2 separate regions of the Homo sapiens genome follow, and region 1 is linked to region 2. Evidence: fine-mapped expression QTL. A gene starts in region 2. The other region holds a variant in brackets. All regions are shown on one strand. Distances are between the middles of the regions. Region 1 overlaps GALNT14 (polypeptide N-acetylgalactosaminyltransferase 14). Region 2 holds the start of CAPN13 (calpain 13).

Evidence for each region. PIP is the estimated chance that this variant, and not a neighbour inherited with it, causes the effect.
Region 1: its variant is fine-mapped to the expression of CAPN13 in whole blood (TOPMed, PIP above 0.99).

The regions. Positions count from the first base shown.
Region 1 is chr2:31,008,446-31,017,217 of GRCh38, reverse strand. All of the region lies in intron 1 of GALNT14 (polypeptide N-acetylgalactosaminyltransferase 14), which reads left to right. Among named protein-coding and RNA genes, the nearest start is that of GALNT14, 130 kb to the left of the region's middle. The variant G/T (reference allele first, on the strand shown) is at 3,785.
Region 2 is chr2:30,803,213-30,811,984 of GRCh38, reverse strand. CAPN13 (calpain 13) reads left to right here and starts at 4,539. Exons shown (of 23, transcript NM_144575.3): 1 at 4,539-4,683. LOC124905982 (a long non-coding RNA gene) reads left to right here. Exons shown (of 4, transcript XR_007086268.1): 4 at 2,459-2,789.

The sequences.
Region 1 (8,772 bases), 210 kb before region 2:
GTCATATCTGTTGAAGGCCATGGACATGGAGGAAGATTAGAGTCTTAGGAACCTTTCTGAAAATGTGGGAACAAAATTCATATATAAAGCAGAAATGGCATTAACAGAAAGAGCATGGGCCAGACAGACTGGGGTCCAAATTAGAAGTCTGCCATAGCTAGCTTTGAGACCCTTGCTTAACCATAAAGTGATCATCACATTATTTGCCTTGCAGGGTTTTTGAGGATTCAGTGAATAATGTGTACGGTTCGTCCAGCACAGAGCGTGGTATGTTGTGAGGATGATAGCTAACACCTCGTGATCCCTTTTGTGTGCCAGGCACTATCCTAAGCTTTGTAGGTAGTGCTTTGTGTCTTGAGTCAGATTCCATAGAAGCAGAGCCTTGTAAATTTAATGAGAGCACTCCCAGGAGGAGGGGAGTGAGGGAAGCAAGACAGGGCAGGCGGGGGAAGATGCTCTGCAAGGATGTATCTCATAGTAGGAGATTTCAACCTGGTTCCAAGGGGAGCCTTGGAGAAGAGATTGCTCAGCCACTGGCACCAGTTGCTCCCTGGAGTTGGGGATATACCTCCCAGGAGAGGCAGGTCTTGTTCTGGGGGGCAGGTCTCTGTAGAAGTTTGCAGCCAGCACTCCTAGCAGCTGAGAGATGGGTGTGCAGGCCCAGTGGAAGGAGTTCGTGTGGGGCACAGTGGCACCCACTGTGGTTCATCCCTCTATCCTGGTACAGCTTCTCTGGGATTCTGTTTAGTCCCAGTTTCTAGGAAGCTCTGTAAGGAAAGGTGTAATCGCCTGAATTGTGTCCCTTCTCTACCCTCTACCATTCATACGTTGGAGCTCTAACCCCCATGTGACTGTATTTGGAGAGATGGCCTATAAGGAGGTAATCAAGGTTGGCATAATACAATCTGATTGGTGTCCTTACAAGAAGGGAAGATTAGAAATCCAGAAAGAGACATTGGGGATGTACACACAGAGAAAAAACCACATGAGGACTCAGCCAGAAGACGGCCATCTGCGGGCCAAGTGGAGAGGCCTCAGGAGAAACTAACCCTGTTCGCACGTTGATCTTGGACTGCCAGCGTCCAGAGCTGTGAGAAAATAAACTTCTGTTGTTTAAGCCCCGTGGTCTATGGTGTTTTGTGATGGTAGCCCGAGCGGATCCATGCAGAAGGGCTAGTAGAGCAAACTCTAGGCCCTGCTGCTGCAATTGTTTGTGACTCTCATCATCTCCTTCCTCCTCTACCCATTCTAGATTTCATGCCCCCTCAGCCTGCTTCAAGGTCTCGTTTAGGCAGCTTGTCTGGTGGGATGATCCCAGTGGCTCTGGTTACCAAGCCAGGATCCACCTTGCATTTAATTGTAATAGTCTCTTCCAATCTGTGATGTCTTTCCTTGTCTTACGTGACCTTGACACGCTGAAGAGTTCTAGTCAGTTGTTTTGTAGAATGTCTCTCCATTGGGTTTGTCTGATGTTTTCTCCAGATTAGACTGAAGCTACGTGTTTTTGGCAAAAATACTACAGACGTGGTGTTGAGCCCTTGTCAGTACATCCTTATAGGGGATATGTGATATTGATATGTTTTATTACTGGTAATGTTAATCTTGATTGCTTGGCTAGGGTGGTACTGGCCAGCAGTCTCCATCATAAAATTACTCTTTTTTTCCCTTTTGCCATTAGTACATTGGAGGATGTACTTTGAGACTTTGCAGACATTCTGATTCATCTCAACTGTTAGCCCATCGATTTTAGTATAGATGGAGGCAGATTTTCCGGACCCTTTTTATAAGGCAGAGTTGCCTTCTTTCTGCAATTCTCCTGTCAGGAGTGGATTTGGGGTGCCCTGCAGAGGCTGTAGTCACTAACTCTCAACTCTCACTGGCAGAGAGTGAGTTCCCATCTCTTTTTTTTTTTTTTTTTTTCCTTTGAGATGGATGTTAGCTCTTGTCACCCAGGCTGGAGTGCAATGGTACGCTCTTGGCTCACTGCAACCTCAGCCTCCCAGGTTCAAGCGATTCTCCTGCCTCAGCCTCCCAAGTAGCTGGGATTACAGGAGTGCACCACTATGCCCAGCTAACGTTTTTGTATTTTTAGTAGAGATGAGGTTTCACCAAGTTGGTCAGGCTGGTCTCAAACTCCTGACCTCAGGTGATCCACCCACCTCAGCCTCCCAAAGTGCTGGGATTACAGGCATGAGCCACGGTGCCCGGCCAAGCTCCTGCCTCTTTAAAGCTAGCGAGTGGTTGATTCTTCAGAGGCCACAGAACTTTAGCCCTTCCCTCCCTCCTTTATGCATTCCCTCACCTGCTAATTTACACTTCTGTCTCATGTTTCCTTCTCCTTCCTCTTCCTTTCTCTGGGGTTCTTGTTGAATTAATTATGGCAGGAAAGACTGGTGTAAGGGTACAACCCACACAGAACTTTGCACTCTATATACATGGTAAACGCAGGGGTGCTTTAGGGATCATTGACTCCTACCCTCTTATTCTACGATGAGGAAATAGGGAGAGTTCAAGTGACTTGCTCAAGGTCACACTGCTAGTGGGTGGCAGATAGATTGGGTCTAGAATCTGACTTGCTGACCTACATGTATCGTGTGTCCCAGCATGCTGCGTTCCTCAGGGCTAGTCATATGGGGACCTGTTCAGGCCTTCAGAAGGGGGCATCCACTGGCAAGCAGCTGGATCCACACTGCTTCTCACCATGCCCCTGCCAGGAGGTGAAGGCTTGCTTTTCCTTCAGTCTTCAGTTTCTCTGCCTCAGTCCTGGGGAAAAGAGTTTGCTCTCTGTGTGGTTGGAAACTGGGGGCCCAATGCCTCTCTGTGGGAGGGGCTTCTCCCTGCAATGAGTTGCAACATTGTGAATTGATACAGCAACCTACTGGAGAGCCCAGAGCCTCACTAGCTATCCAGATCCAGAGCTGATGGGTACCCCCTTGCCTTTTTTGGGGAGGAAGGGGGAAGGGAGATGTTCACTTTTATTCTCATCTTTAGTCAGCTTCTCCTCTTAATTGACATTTACTATGTGCAAGCCACTGCTTTTTACCTACAGTATTTTCATTTAATTCTTAAAACCCTGTGAAATAGGCATTATTCTCCCCATTTTACAGGTGATGGAACTGAGGTTCAAACAGGTTAAGCAGCTTCCTCCAAATCACATAAACAGTAAGCAGTGGAGCCAGTGTCAGAGCATAGGTCTTGAGAAAATTTAGGTTCATCTGTTTTCATTCCTTAAGTGCAGCTTTCATGAAATCTTACAGGGACAGAAACTTAAAGCCATTGTCTGCACAATCGTTATTTTTAGATTGTCAGAGTCTATAACACTTTTGTAGTGTTTCATGACCATTCCCATAGCTGTTTACTTTTAGTTTTGTAATTACATAGATTCAGTGCTCTACTGGTTCTTCTGCTCCATTCTTGGGTTTTTTATTTTGAACCACCTCTTCATTGACTGCATGTGGGAACAAAATTCATATATAAAGCAGAAATGGCATTAACAGAAAGAGCATGGGCCAGACAGACTGGGGTCCAAATTAGAAGTCTGCCATAGTGGATTCTAGTGGCTGCTTCAAAATGGGCTCATAGGTGCTGTCATCCCTGAGCTTGGATGTGGGAATATCACACTCCTGCTGTCCGTACTTGAACGGCACCTCAGCAGGTTAAAATGCTTCTGGTCACATTTGGACTCAGCCCCGTGGGTGTTGCTTCATTATCCGCTGACATGGAAAGCTGCCGCGGGGAAGTTTGAGGTCAGCTGAACATTTCCCCTTCTGTAGGTGACTTGTTG[G/T]TTCTGCCTGGGTGCTTGATGATTTCTTTCTTGCATTTGGAAGTTCGATACCTAAACCAGGAAACATCTTCGTGTCAATCCCTTTGTATCAATTTTTTATGGAATGTGGTGTGCAATTTTGATGTGCAGACTCAGATCTTTATTCATCTCAGGAGGTTTTTATTTAAAAAGATGAAGACTGTTTTGTGTGTTCCATCTGTTTCTCTGCTTCAGGTTCACCAGTTTTCTGATGTTGGATCACCTTTGCTCTTTCTATACATTTTATTCTCTCCTGTAGTTGCTTTAATAATTTAAATCTTTCTCCTCTGAGTCCCAGTGACTTGCCCAAGGTCCCACTGCTCAAGAGTGTCAGAGCCAGGACTGGAACCCTTTAGTTGGTATCAGTAATTAGATTTCCTGCTGTGCCTGCACTGCTTCTTGGAGTTTCAACATGTATTTATTGGTTCTGCAAAAGTGTTTTGTGGTTCTCAGTTTTATCATTCTTTATTCCATTGCTTTATTTAATCATCTAATCCTTTAGCTCTTATTTTATTAAATTCATGCTTTTAAGCTATTCCATAGCATGAAGCACGTTTGGGTAATTTCCTTCCATTTGTTTAGTTGTTTTTATTTAGACTGGGGTTTTTGTTTTGTGTGTGTGGGTGGTGTTGTTTTTGGATTTTTTTTCATACTGTGTTCCATTTTGTTGGTTTGTTTGGTTTTGGTTTTGGCCCCACCCACACAGGGGCATGTTTGCATCATTGCCATGCAGTTCCTTTGCATCTTGCTTGACCTACACACCCTGATTCAGGGCAAGTTCATTCTTAACCCTTTTTTCACCATGTCTGAGCCTGTTCATTTCCTCCACAAGGCATAGTTTGAGGGCTGTGAGTTCTGTGTCTGTCCCCTTGTCTGTAGCCTGAGGGCCTTGGTGGAGTGAGGTGGGAAGGGAGAGCTGCACTGAGGCTGTGAGCAGTTTTTATTACCAACCTCTCAGAGAGAAAAGCCACACTCCTGCCTCCAGGACACACGCTGTTTTGTGGAAGAGACCCAATAAACAGGTAACTATAGGTGCTGCCATAAGAAGAGGGGACACTATTAGGTTGCAGGGACCAGATTTGCTTGCTTCCTTAAAGTCATGGTGGTGGCAGTTTAATGGAAGGATGCCAGTGTGTGGGAACCAGGGTTAAGCCAGACCAAAAGTCCAGGGCAGTACTTGCAGACCACGGCAAAGAACTTGGCCTTTATTCTGTGAGTGGGATCCAACCGTGTCTTAGAAGAGCCATTCCAGCAGCAGTGTGAAAAATTAAATACAGGTCTAAAGACATAAATCCCCAGCGCTTATCTGTTGGTCGGCTCTGCAAAGAGAATGAGGAGATATCTTCTGTACTGGAAACTGTCACCAAGGAGTAGAGAATTTCCTGAGCAGACTGGCGTTCCCCACCCTTCTTTGCCCCTGCCCGTTTCAAACACCTTCAGCTCCTGGGCATCAGCTGAAGAATGCCTAGCTTTTCCCCAGTGCTGTGGATCTCTGGAGATGTGTTTCCCGGCTGAGCGTTATGGCAGCCAGAGCCAGGCGGCACGTCCAGAGAACACATCTCAAGGTTGTTGTTTGAAGTACAAACAGAGCAGGGACCAATTATGGAGTCCCTCTGCACAGCATGCCTCCTGACTGTGCTCGGCATGGGGTGGGCAGAGGCTGGCAGAGCTGAGGAGCCAGCTTTGGCCCCCTGAGGGGTAGCTGGGAGGGAGAAGGGAGAGTATCATAGATTTATTTGCTGCCAGACAGGTCTGCCAGTGTGAGCTCATCTTTCAGAGAGGCGCCCTCTCCTCTTAACAGCCAGGTGCCTCCTGTGGCCCCAGGGTGGCACTGGATCCTAGATCCTGTGAGCAGAATTTTGCATCTATTTCTGGGGAAGAAAAGACCATGGCTTCTATTACACTGAAAAATAGGGCCCTGTCTCCTCAAATAGTTAAGGATGCCTCTGCTATGTAACCCCTATATTTTATAGGTGGGAAAAGTAACCAGAGACCCAGTGAGCAGAAATGGTTTACCCGAGGATTCAAGGTTGTGGAGGCCAGATCTAAAAGTCAGCTCTTACTGCCCCATGGACATACAACGTTGTCTTCACTTTGCTACCAAAGTGGTAGCTATTCTTTTTTGAGTGCTAAAAGTATGCCTGGCACAGAGCTTAGTGCTTTACTTATTTTAGTCCATTAGATCCGTAAAATGGCATCACAGTTTTGCAGAATAGACAGCCAGACAGCTAACTCTCAGTTGAGGGAGAGAGGTTAAGTCACTTCCCAAGGTCACAGAGACAGTAACTGGAGGAGAGATTGCAGACCCAGCTCTCGTGGGTGTCCACCCTCCCTATCCCTTCCCTCCCTCCTTCCTGTGCTTCTGTCTCAGTCTAGTTAATTCCTGTAGGCCTAGGCCAAGGCTTGCCTCCCTGCTGAACCTCTCCCTGATGGCACCAGCCCTTGCTGGTCTTCTCTTTTCTGAAAAGCCAGGCCCATTGAAAGTTTTTTGTAGGCAAAATGGTTCTGGTTTCCCATCTTGCCACTTCCTTGCTGGCCACAGTTGATCAGATTGAGAGTATTCCAGGCAGAAAGCCCTATGAGATGGGATGAGATGGATGAGAAAGGGAAGAACGGCCAGTGTGGCTGGAACATAATGAGCTAAGAGGGATGGGGAGGGGTAAGTGTGGAGAGTTTGCAGGTTCTGATCAGGCAGGGCCTTGGGGGCCACAGGAAAGAGTGAGGACAGCATTCTGAGTGCAGTGGGAGCCGCTGGAGGGATTCTGAGCCAGAATGGGAGAGACGGGAACGAATGTCATCTTGAGACAGAGTCTCTCTCTGTTGCCCAGGCTGGAGTGCAGTGGCGCAATCCCGGCTCACTGCAAGCTCCACCTCCCGGGTTCACGCCATTCTCCTGCCTCAGCCTCCCAAGTAGCTGGGACTACAGGTGCTCACCACCCCGCCCGGCTAATTTATTTATTTATTTATTTTTTGTATTTTTAGTAGAGATGGGGTTTTACCGTGTTAGCCAGGATGGTCTGGATCTCCTGACCTCGTGATCTGCCCGCCTTGGCCTCCCAAAGTGTTGGGATTACAGGCATGAGCTACCACGCCCAGCCACAGATGTCGTTTTTAAGAAGGCGACTTTGGGCCAGGCGCAGTGGTTCACGCCTGTAATCCCAGCACTTTGGGAGGCTGAGGCAGGTGGATCACCTGAAGTCAGGAGTTTGAGACCAGGCTGACCAACATGGTGAAACCCCGTCTCTACTAAAAAGATACAAAAATTAGGCAGATGTGGTGGTGGGCTCCTGTAATCCCAACTACTCAGGAGACTGAGGCATGAGAACCGCTTGAACTCAGGAGGCGGAGGTTGCAATGAGCCAAGATCATGCCATTGCACTGCAGCATGGGTGACAGAGCAAGACTATGTCTAAAAACGAAACAAAACAAAACAAGGTGACTTTGGAAAATGAATTGGAGGGATCAAATGCAGTATTCCAGAATGCAGTTGGTGGTGGTTGGGTATGGTTGTAGAGATGGGAAAAGGAGGGTGGCTGGATGGAGGCATGCTTTGCAGGCAGAACCAACAGGACATGGGGATGGGTTAGTTGTGTGTGGGTTCAAGTGATTAGAGTGAGATTTAGAATGAGGAAGAAGGAATTGTCGAGGGTAACTCTCAGATTCCTGACTTGTGCAGCTATGTGGCTGGTGGTGCCATTTCTTTACTTGTGAAAGCCTGGAAGAGGCACCAGTTCCAATGGGCAAATCAAGAGTTCCATTTGAAATCCATGCAAGGTGAGATGCTTGTGAGACCTTAAGTGGGCATGTCCAGTAGGCGTTTTTTTGATATTGTTCTGGAGCTCAGAAAAGAGATCTGGGCTGGAAAACTATATTGGAATCCTCCATCTATAGAAGGTTGTCAAGGCACAGGAATGGAGGAAGTCACCTGTAGGGAGAGTGTAACGAGTGGAGAGGAGGGACCAGGGCTAAATCCATGCACACTTCCAACAATGAGAAATCAGGGGAAGGGAGGAGCCAGAGAAGGAAATGAAGAAGATGCCAAAGTCTGAGAAGCCCAGGAGAAAGTATTCTGAAACAGAGAGACAAGGACCCTCGAAGGGGGGCTTTTCCAGGGGGTAGGATGTTGCTGAAGGGCCAAGGAAGATGAATGTGCCAAATTGTGCCTTAGTGCTGAGCATCCAGTAGGTGCCCAATAAATGTGAGATCCTCTTCCTTGCCCTCTGCCTCCTCCATTTGTTCTTCTTTCATTCTTTCTGCATATCTATTGGCCTTTTCCCTCAGTTTACAGTAAGAACTCAAGAAATAATGAATAAATAAATGAATGCATGAAGTGAATGAATGAAGTGAATTGCAAGTTCTGCTGTCATTATCTCCCCTCCTGCAGCCCGGGGCATTGATTTTGTTCAAGGGCTAAGCCAGATGCAAGTTTCCTGGGAACCTATGGCCCTTGTCTAGCAGAGGGCCCTCCAGGGAGCCATTTCTCATGCTTGTCTGGCATCCTGGCCTGAGCAGTGCCACATGGTCCCCGGCCACCCGTGCAGGGAGCCGCCTCCCCCAGCAGGAAGCTAGAGTCCCTGTCGCCTTTCCTCCCGGAGCGGTGTCGACTGCACTGTAATCACACAATTATTATGCCATTAAAATGTCACATTTGAAGAAATCCGTATAAACAGAGCATTAACAACCGCTTTAAAATTGTAGTCTTTACCACTAATGACCTACTTTCTCTATGCACCGCATCCTCCCACCACTCATGCTGGCTGCCTCTCTTCCAGCCTTGATTTTGGAGGCAGGCGAGAAGAAGGTACAGTCATCTTTTCTGCCTGGAAAGCCTTAATGCTTAATGTGCTGAGAGTGACTCTTTGACAGGACTGGAGACAGCAAGGCTGGGGGGAGCCATTTAGTGAGTGAGACGTGGATGTCACACCCATGCAGATCTAAGGTTCTGAAGGAAGGGACCTCAGAGAGAATCT
Region 2 (8,772 bases):
GTATGTGGGAGAGAGAGAAGGAACAAGAGAGAAATAGGGTGATCCTATTGAGAATAAGTTTAGATTAAGGACTTGATATTCTTTGTTTTAAGTTATGGTTGAATTTATTTATTTTCTTTAATTCTTAATCTTTATTTTTATTGAGACAGGGTCTTGCTATGTTGCCCAGGCTGGTCTCAAACTTGTGGGTTTAAGTGATCCTCCTGCCTTAGCCACCCAAGGAGCTGGGATAATAGGCATCCCTCACCACTCCCAGCTGAGACTTGGTATTCTAAACACTTGCTTTGGGGGCATATATTTGCTCAAGTGATTTGCATGGGAGAGGGACACTGAGAAGCTATTTGGGAGTGGAAGAACTAGGGCTAGAGACAATAGAGAGAGGTCAATCAAGAGTTCATAACCCTAGGGAGGACAGAGCTCCCTTAGAGAAGGTATAGTGTCCCCCAGAGACCACAATGCCTAATGGAATGCAGAAGATGTTCGGTGGACAACCAGCAGACACTCTCGGGGCTTCCCAGAGATTCCCAGGGGGAGACGTTGCATCAGCTGGGAAAGGGCTCCAAGCCAGTGCATTCAGAACGTGAGCACTGAGTCGACATCTCTTGCAAGCACTTGTAGGCGCCAGTGACTGAAATGTCTGCATTATGTGTGGCTGTGTCTAGAAAAAGGAAGACGAAAAATAATCATTATCTCTGAGTATAAGATTATGGTTATTTTTTAACTTTTAAATAATTTTTCAAAAGTTTCTGTGATGAGTATTTTGTTTATTGTATTTTATTTTTTGAGACAATCTTGCTCTGTCACCCAGGCTGGAGTATAGTGGTGTGATCTCAGCTCACTGCAGCCTCTGCCTCCCAGATTCAAGCTAGTCTCCTGCCCCAGCCTCCTGAGTAGCTGGGATTACAGGCATGCACCACCACACCTGGCTAATTTTTGTATTTTTAGTAGAGACGGGGTTTCACCATGTTGCCCAGGCTGGTCTTGAACACCTGACTTCAAGTGATCCACTCGCTTTAGCCTCTCAAACTGCTGGGATTACAGGCGTGAGCTACTGCACCCAGCCTGTGATGAGTATTTTATAATAAGGAACATCACTCATTTTTAAACCATCTCTGGCTTCCTTATGTTCCTCTTGCCTCCACGCCTCCTGCTGCCCCACCACGCACACACACTCTGTGTTCTCATCTATGCATAAGAATGGAAACTCTGGCTTTTGCTGGGGTTCTGTCCCCCAGGGCACAAGAAGGAACCGGGGTGTAATAGGCCTGGGCTTGACTTGGTAGTTTGTAATCTGCCTAGCTGGCAGCCATGGCACAGCAAACTCAAGCTGGGTGACCTCCAGGCACTTCATACTTTTCGGCATTAATAAAAATCACTGCACTTTGTTGACTTTGCTATTTCCACCCACAGGGGAATGTACAAATACATGAAATGTACATGAAATCTGCTAAATGATCCATTTAACCATGTGGTAAACACTCTGTATACCTGTTTCCCCTGCCAAAACAGTCCCCTTTGTGATATTTTACAGGGTCATTTGATTTAATTCCCTAAGTCAACACAGGGTTTGTTTTCTTATAAAGGAAAAGAGGATAAGGCTTTTCAAAATTAACTGACTCAGGACAGTTTACCTTGAGGGTAAACCAAAGGACATTATGAGAAAGGGTGCAAAGGAGCTTCTGGGTTCTGGTAATGGTGTTTCTTAATCTGGATGCCGGTAACTTGGGTTTCCTTTGTGAACATTTATCAAGCTGTACACAGGATTTGCACATTCTTACCAGTCTCACCACAGCCTCCTCCTCGACCCTCTCCTCCTGGCTGGCTCCCCACATCCTTCACTCCCCAGGAGGGCGTCTCATGACTCCTCAGTGGAGGCACTGCCTACTTTTTCCTGTTTGGGTGTCTCCTAGAACCTGCAAATCCCCTTCATAGCACTAATTGCAAGAGAAATAATCTGGCTGCTTTTGTGGTTATTGGTTTCATGTGTGTCTCTCACTAGATTCTAAGTCCACTGGGCTTGTGTGTCCGCTGGACCTGCTGCTGTGTTCCCTGAGCCTGGTGCAGTGCCTGGCAACATGGCATGAGAAACAGTTTGTAAGAGAATGTTGGAGAGGCAGAGAGGGAGACAGAACAGTGGGGTTGGGGGAAGAAGACAGAAAGGAGAAGGGGAAGGAAGGAGAGAGGAAGAGTTATGTCTCTCAAGATCTGGGTATTCTGAGGCATGGCTACAGGTTGGTGAGTGGGAGCACTCAGGAGTGTGTTGACATGATTGAGTAAGGAGTCTCTGGAGAAAGAAGTCTCTCTCAGAGAAGGTGGTCTCCCTGTGGGCAAGATTGGTTCAAGGACTGTAGCCTAGGTTCATAAGGGGAGGACGGGGACCCTGAGCCTAGTCTGGCTCCAGTTTTCTTCTGGCTCGAAGTGATTGCAAAAAAAGAGCTATTTCTTTGCATTTCTTTAGGACACTGAGCACTAAATGTCAGCGGCATGAGTGCAGGAGCCAGTCACATCAGGGGCAGTCATGGCGTGGCAGAGGAAGTGCAGGTATGGCCACAGCACAATGGCAATGACGGCATTTCCTACACCCACAGTTGGCACTCGAAGAACAGCCCTCACAGGCCAGGCTTGGACAGCCATAGCAGGATCAGTGTATTTGGTAGACACAGGTAGTGGCAGGGGAGGCCCCAGTGGGGCTCCGTGACACAGAAGCCATCACATACAGTGAAGGAGATCGAGACTCAGAGGGAGAGGAGGGCTGTGGTGGGTCCCATGCATGCCGCAAAGGACTGCATCTCAGGGCAGCTATGCAGTGCTCAGCAGGGAATGCCAGAAAGGCATTGGAAGCATTTAAGGGGCATGCCACACGGCCTTCAGAGTTGGAGCAAGTCCAGCTAAGAACTTACTGTTAGGTGTTGCCCAGTTTATAGCCTTCGGCTGGAATTCTCTGGAAAAAACAAATCACTGAGAATTGGCTTCTAAAGAGCACCTATAAATGGGAGGAAGAACACCAAAGAATCAAAGATGCCAGAAAAGAAAACAGCCCCTGGGATTTGTGCACAGGTGTTCTTGACAGGGTCCCTCACCTAAGCCATTCTTCCGGCACAATTATCACCCAGAGCGGCTTGTTTCTTGGCACCTAGAACACTCCATCGGGAGCTGTTTCCCTTTTTAACTCAGTACTCCCAAAGACTGCTCTGGGGATAACAGCTCCCACTCTTAGGGGGAAAAATATATTTTTAGAGATGGGAGATGACAAAACCATCATCAATAAGCAAGAAAACTCCCAATTAATTTTCTTGAGACACTGTCTTGTGATATATCCTTGTGGGTAGGGCTTTCTGAAGCATTTTCTCACCATTTTTTTCTGAAACTATGGCTTTCCAACATTTTTCATTGCATGCTCTATTAGTAAAATCATTTTGAACATGCACCACAGATATCTGCGTATTTATTCACTGATGATGTTTATGCAATAGTGTGTGTGTGTGTATTGTTTACTGTATTTATAGTGAAATTTCTAATAGAAGGTGTCCGCTGGGATGCAGGAATCCCACTAAACAAACACAAGGCAGACAGGGTAAGCATCATAATCCTCAGCTCACGGATTAATAGACTAAGATGGGAAGGGACTTGCCCAGGTCACACAGCCAAAAGTTGCAAAACTGGGGTTAAAACTCATATCCATACTTTCCAGCTTCTCAGATTCTTCATTCATGTGCCAAATATCCCTTTCTACTCATCAGAATTTGGGAATGGACCAGTCATAACAGTTTTTGGTGATTTCCACATTGTTTCCCTGTTTTACCTATTTTATCATTATTGCCTATAGCATAGGGTGTGCCATGCGATCAGGGTTCTGGAACTGGCTTCTAAAGAGCACTTATGAATGGGGATGAAGAACATCAAGGAATTAAAGATGCCAGAAAAGCAAATAGCCCCTTGGATTTGAGAACAGGAAACATGCACTTTACACGCCTCATCTCTTTCTGCCCCATCCAGCAAGCAGGGATGATGCAGAGACCTTCCCTGGGTCTCGCCATGCCCAGGAGTTAATGTGTTCTACAATGTATTTGTAGAAAGAAGATACTGCGTCTAGTAGAAAGAGATGTGATATGATTGACGTGGAGTGGCCACTCTTGATGCAGGAGACATGGCAATTGTACTTTCCTGTATGAGAATGAGGCCTGAAGGAAGGTTGCTTCCCTCAGTCTTTTCTCAGCAGAGGGGTTTTGTAAAACAAACCAAAACAAAACACAAATTCCCTGAAGCAGAATAAAGATAAAGAAACTTAAATATCTGGAAACAATGAAAACTGCAAGAGCCAAGAAACGGGCAGCTTAGGGGCCCCAGGAAGTGAGGTGGGATAAGGCAGAGATAGGCTTGGGGCGGAGAATCTGGAAGCTGTTGCTGTTTACATTCAATGTCCTCTCTCTCTCCAAGAGGTGGCAGGCCACTGCCCAATGCTGAAGTCACTGTTTAACGAAGGTGGAGCCTGCCTTTACCTGGTACACCCATATAAGGAAAAGCCTGAGGTCAGGAGTAAGCAGACACCAGCACTGCTCTTTCTCCAAGACGGCCGGCCATGCTCTCCTCCTCTGCCAGTCTCCTCCACCACTCTCTAACCTGAGAGCCTGTGGAACCTGCCCGTCTCCCCTCCTCCATCAGACACACCTGCCTAGGAAACAGGTAAGTTGTGCGTGGTCATGTCCCAGAGCTGTGGACCAAGGCAGTCCTCTAAACATTAGTGAGCATGTACAATTTTCTAGAGAGCTTCATGATGTCGCTTCTGAGTTCCCACCTCCCAAGGTACATATTCAGTAGCTCTGGAAGCTGGGTTTTTTTGATGCAGGTGGTCCAAGGATATGCTTTAAGAAAAACTAGGGCAAAGTGGGAGTTAATTTTCTAAGAGAATCTAATCCAAACTTTGCATATTTCATGCAAAGAGAGTATTTCTTAATCATTCTGTCACCTTCGATTTCTGATCATTCTAAGTTGTGACCTTGAGGGCTGTGTTCACCGTAAGGGACACATTGATGGCAGAAATCATGTCTTCTTTGTGCACTGATGTGTAGTTTCTGTTAGATAGTAGGTGCTTAATAAACATTTGCTAAAGGGAAGAATGGGACCTGGGCCCTTTGTTTTCTAATCATCTAGCTTATTAGTTATAGGAATGAAGTTGACAACTCTGGGTTAATCACAAAAGACAGATCATTACAACTTCAGAGATTCAGGAGGTTCCTATATGCCTCTAGTGGTGTCATGGTCACACACATGTGTCTCTGTAACTGCTAAAGTTATGTAATCTTTGAGATGTGATGCTGTTCTCAGGGAGACAGTTCCAGCTGCTCAGCTTGGACCCAAGTTAACCAGATTAGAATAAGTGCAGATATTTTCCCTCTATAGTTACAGTTGGGTCATGAACTACTGACTGTCCCATTTGTCCTGGGTCACAAACACAACTTTGGTTACCCCCGAGTGGCATTAACTAGACTTTCAATCAGATTATCCTCTTGAATTGTCTCACCTTTGTACCCACCTTGACATAAGTATTGTGGGTTTTTGTTGTTGTTGTTGTTGTTGTTGTTATTTTGAAGGTTGGAGGAGTGACAGCTGTAGGGAGGCTTACTTATTAGTAGATTGGTTGATGGAAATGTAATAATCTACCAACTGTGTAATAGGCAAAAGCTATATATAGCATGAGTTCATTATCCCATTTTGTAGATGGAAAAAGTGAGGGACCGGTGAGTGACTTGCTGCAAAAGTTTATACCAGATGCAAATGACAGAGCTGGAGTTCTGCTGTGCCTGGTAGGTACCCTGTCTTGTCCCCTAGTTATTTGGTTGTATTCAGTTACCCTCTTGAAAGAACACCTTAGAAGAAAAGATGCTATGAAGAAATGCACACATTAAGCCAAGCACTGTGGCTCACACCTGTAATCTCAACACTTTGGGAGGCCGAGGTGGACAGATTGCTTGATCCCAGGAGTTCAAGACCAGCCTGGGCAACATGGTGAAACCCTGTCTCTACAAAAATAAATTAAAAATTGGGGGTCTGGGAAAAAATATTAGCTACATGTGGTGGTGCACACCTGTAGTCCCAGCTATTGGAGGCAGGGGGAGGGGTCCATGGTTGAGGTGAAAGGATTGCTTGAGCCCAGGAGGTTGAGGCTTCAGTGAGCTATGATCATGCCACTGCACTCCAGCCTGAGTGACAGAGCAAGACCCTGTCTCAAAAAAAAAAGACCAACCTACTGGCCCTGAGGCTCACTCCGTATCAAGCATTGTGCTTGATGCTTCCATATGGTGAGCTGTGTGATTTGGGGCATGCTCCTTAACCTCTTGGGGGTCCCAGTTTCCTCATCACTAAGACATGGTAGCAACAGTAATCTACCCCAAAAGATCAGTGAAAGGATCAAATGAGATCCTATATGGAAAGCACTTAGCAGTACTTGAGCACATGGCAAGTGCTGAAGATATTTTAGTCATTATTGTTGACATTATTTTAGCCTGGGTTCTCTATAAAACAAAGCCTGAGGCAAAGCTTAAGTGCTACTTAGCACTTAAGGTAAGACACCAGGGGAGTGAGAGTCAGGGAAGTGGGAAATGGGAAGAGAAAAAGGGGAAGCAGTGAGGGATGATGTGCCACCACCTGGCCTCTCTTCACAAAGAGACATGACCAGCCACTTGGCCAAAGCAGGGCCCCTCTGGACTGGCGTTGCAGATGCATTGTGCCTTGGAAGAGTCTATCCGAGCAAGGGTAGAGAGGACATTTATATGTTGGCTCACTCTGTCTCCTCTCTTATTGTTCAAAGCTTGCCCTATGGGGAGTTAACTGTCCTGCACTTCCAGCTTGTGTCTTCTGACCCCTGTGGCAGCCACTGGGAAAACTAGATCTAATTGCTAGAGGCTTGGCACCTCATCTGAGTCCAGAAGTGGTCAGAAGAGCCACTTCCTTGGCTGGAGTAAAAAAGGGACCAAGAGTCCTAGAGACAGGTTGAGGCTAAGAGAACCTGAGATGGCACCTAAGAAAGGTTTAATAAAGACTGAATTATCATTAATATCTGCTGAACACTGCGTACAGCACTAATGTTCCTGCCTAGATGTCACCTCTTTCTCCCATGAGAAAACCATAAAGGGGACTTTGGATAGGCTGGTCCATTCCATCTCTCCTCAAGGTTTGGAAGAAGTCAGGTTGAGGGCATCCTAACTCTCTCAGAACGTCCATGGTGGAGCATGCCACTGATAGACAGCAAGGAAGTCCACGGCCATGCAAAAGATGGGAGCAGAATCAAGAGGAGGTGTTGATTTTCTACCACCCTTGGGACTCTATCTTTTGGTCAAGTGTTTCCTAAAGCATGGTATACATAGAACACTAATTTTGGGGGCTGTTGCTGGGGGCTCCTTGATATAAAGCATTTATGATCAAATATTTGGATGAATGTTGCCTCCTACTCTTCCCTCCTCAGAGAGTTATGATTCCAATTTACTTAAAAAGGCTCTGTTCACGCCTGTAATCCCAGCACTTTGGGAGGCCGAGGTGGGCGGATTGCCTGAGGTCAGGAGTTCGAGGCCAGTCTGGCCAACATGGTGAAACTCTGTCTCTACTAAAAATACAAAAAAATTAGACAGGCATGGTAGCATGCACCTGTAATCCCAGCTACTTGGGAGGCTGAGGCAGGGGAATTGCATGAAGCAGGGAGGTGGAGGTTGCAGTGAGCCGAGGTTGCGCCACTGCACTCCAGCCTTGCTGACAGAGTGAGACTCTGTCTCAAAACAAACAAACAGAACAGGCTCTGAGAAAGCCAAAACAAAGGAACCAGTTGAACTGAGTGCACCAGAGCCTCCCATACTGAACTCCAGTTGGACCTGTGTTCATGGGCTCAGTCTCTTTTGTCTTGATTCCTGAATTCTCAGGGCACTCTCCTCCACTATGCACTACTTTTTGCTTTGCACAAACCCTGTTGAATAAAAAACTCTGCAGTATAAGGGAAGGCTGTGGGGGTGCATGAGAAGCTTTTACCAATCTGCAGAGCTCATTCTCCCGGGAAACAACCAGGAAAGCTCAGCCAAGCCTTAAGCCTGTTTCCTTGTCTCAATAATAGAGAGGTGAACAAGGCAATCCCCAAGGAGTCTCCCAGCCTCTTGTAATCCATGATACTCATGTTGAAAGGCAGCTAAAGGTCACCTCATCTATCTCTTGTGTTGCCTCAGAGACAAACTATTTAGTGAATAAAGAGATCCAAATTGTTAATACATGTTGTAGGGTTATGAAGTGGAGATTTGCCCACTGCCGCCCTCTCTGGTGAGTTCAACATGAGATGGGACGTGTACCATGTCCCACGGTAGTGGCTGGGGTGACGAGCTGCCTCTAAGGACTTGGGCTGGAGGACAGCCAGGACTCTGGGGTTAACATCCTCACTTCGGCCAAGTAAGTCCCAAGGGACCTTTAAAATTGGGAGCAGCCAGGAGGTTTGTTTCCTTTCCCTCTGAAAGAATGGTCCCTCTGGCAGCACTCTGCCCTCTGATCTCCACTGGTCAGCCCTGCCATGTCCACCTCCCATGCCTGTGGACCAGGTCTGACCAGCACCTCCCACACAGTTCAGAGGACTGAACAAGACCCTGTCCCAGCCTGCAGACCAGAGACACAGAGGGGCGCTGTCTCCCATCACAGCCACACACTGCCTTCGGGAGATGCACCCAGTGGCCCACTAGAGACCACTGGTTCTCAAAGGTCTGAAGCCAGAGAGGTGATGGAGAGATGACAGGAATCTTTGCC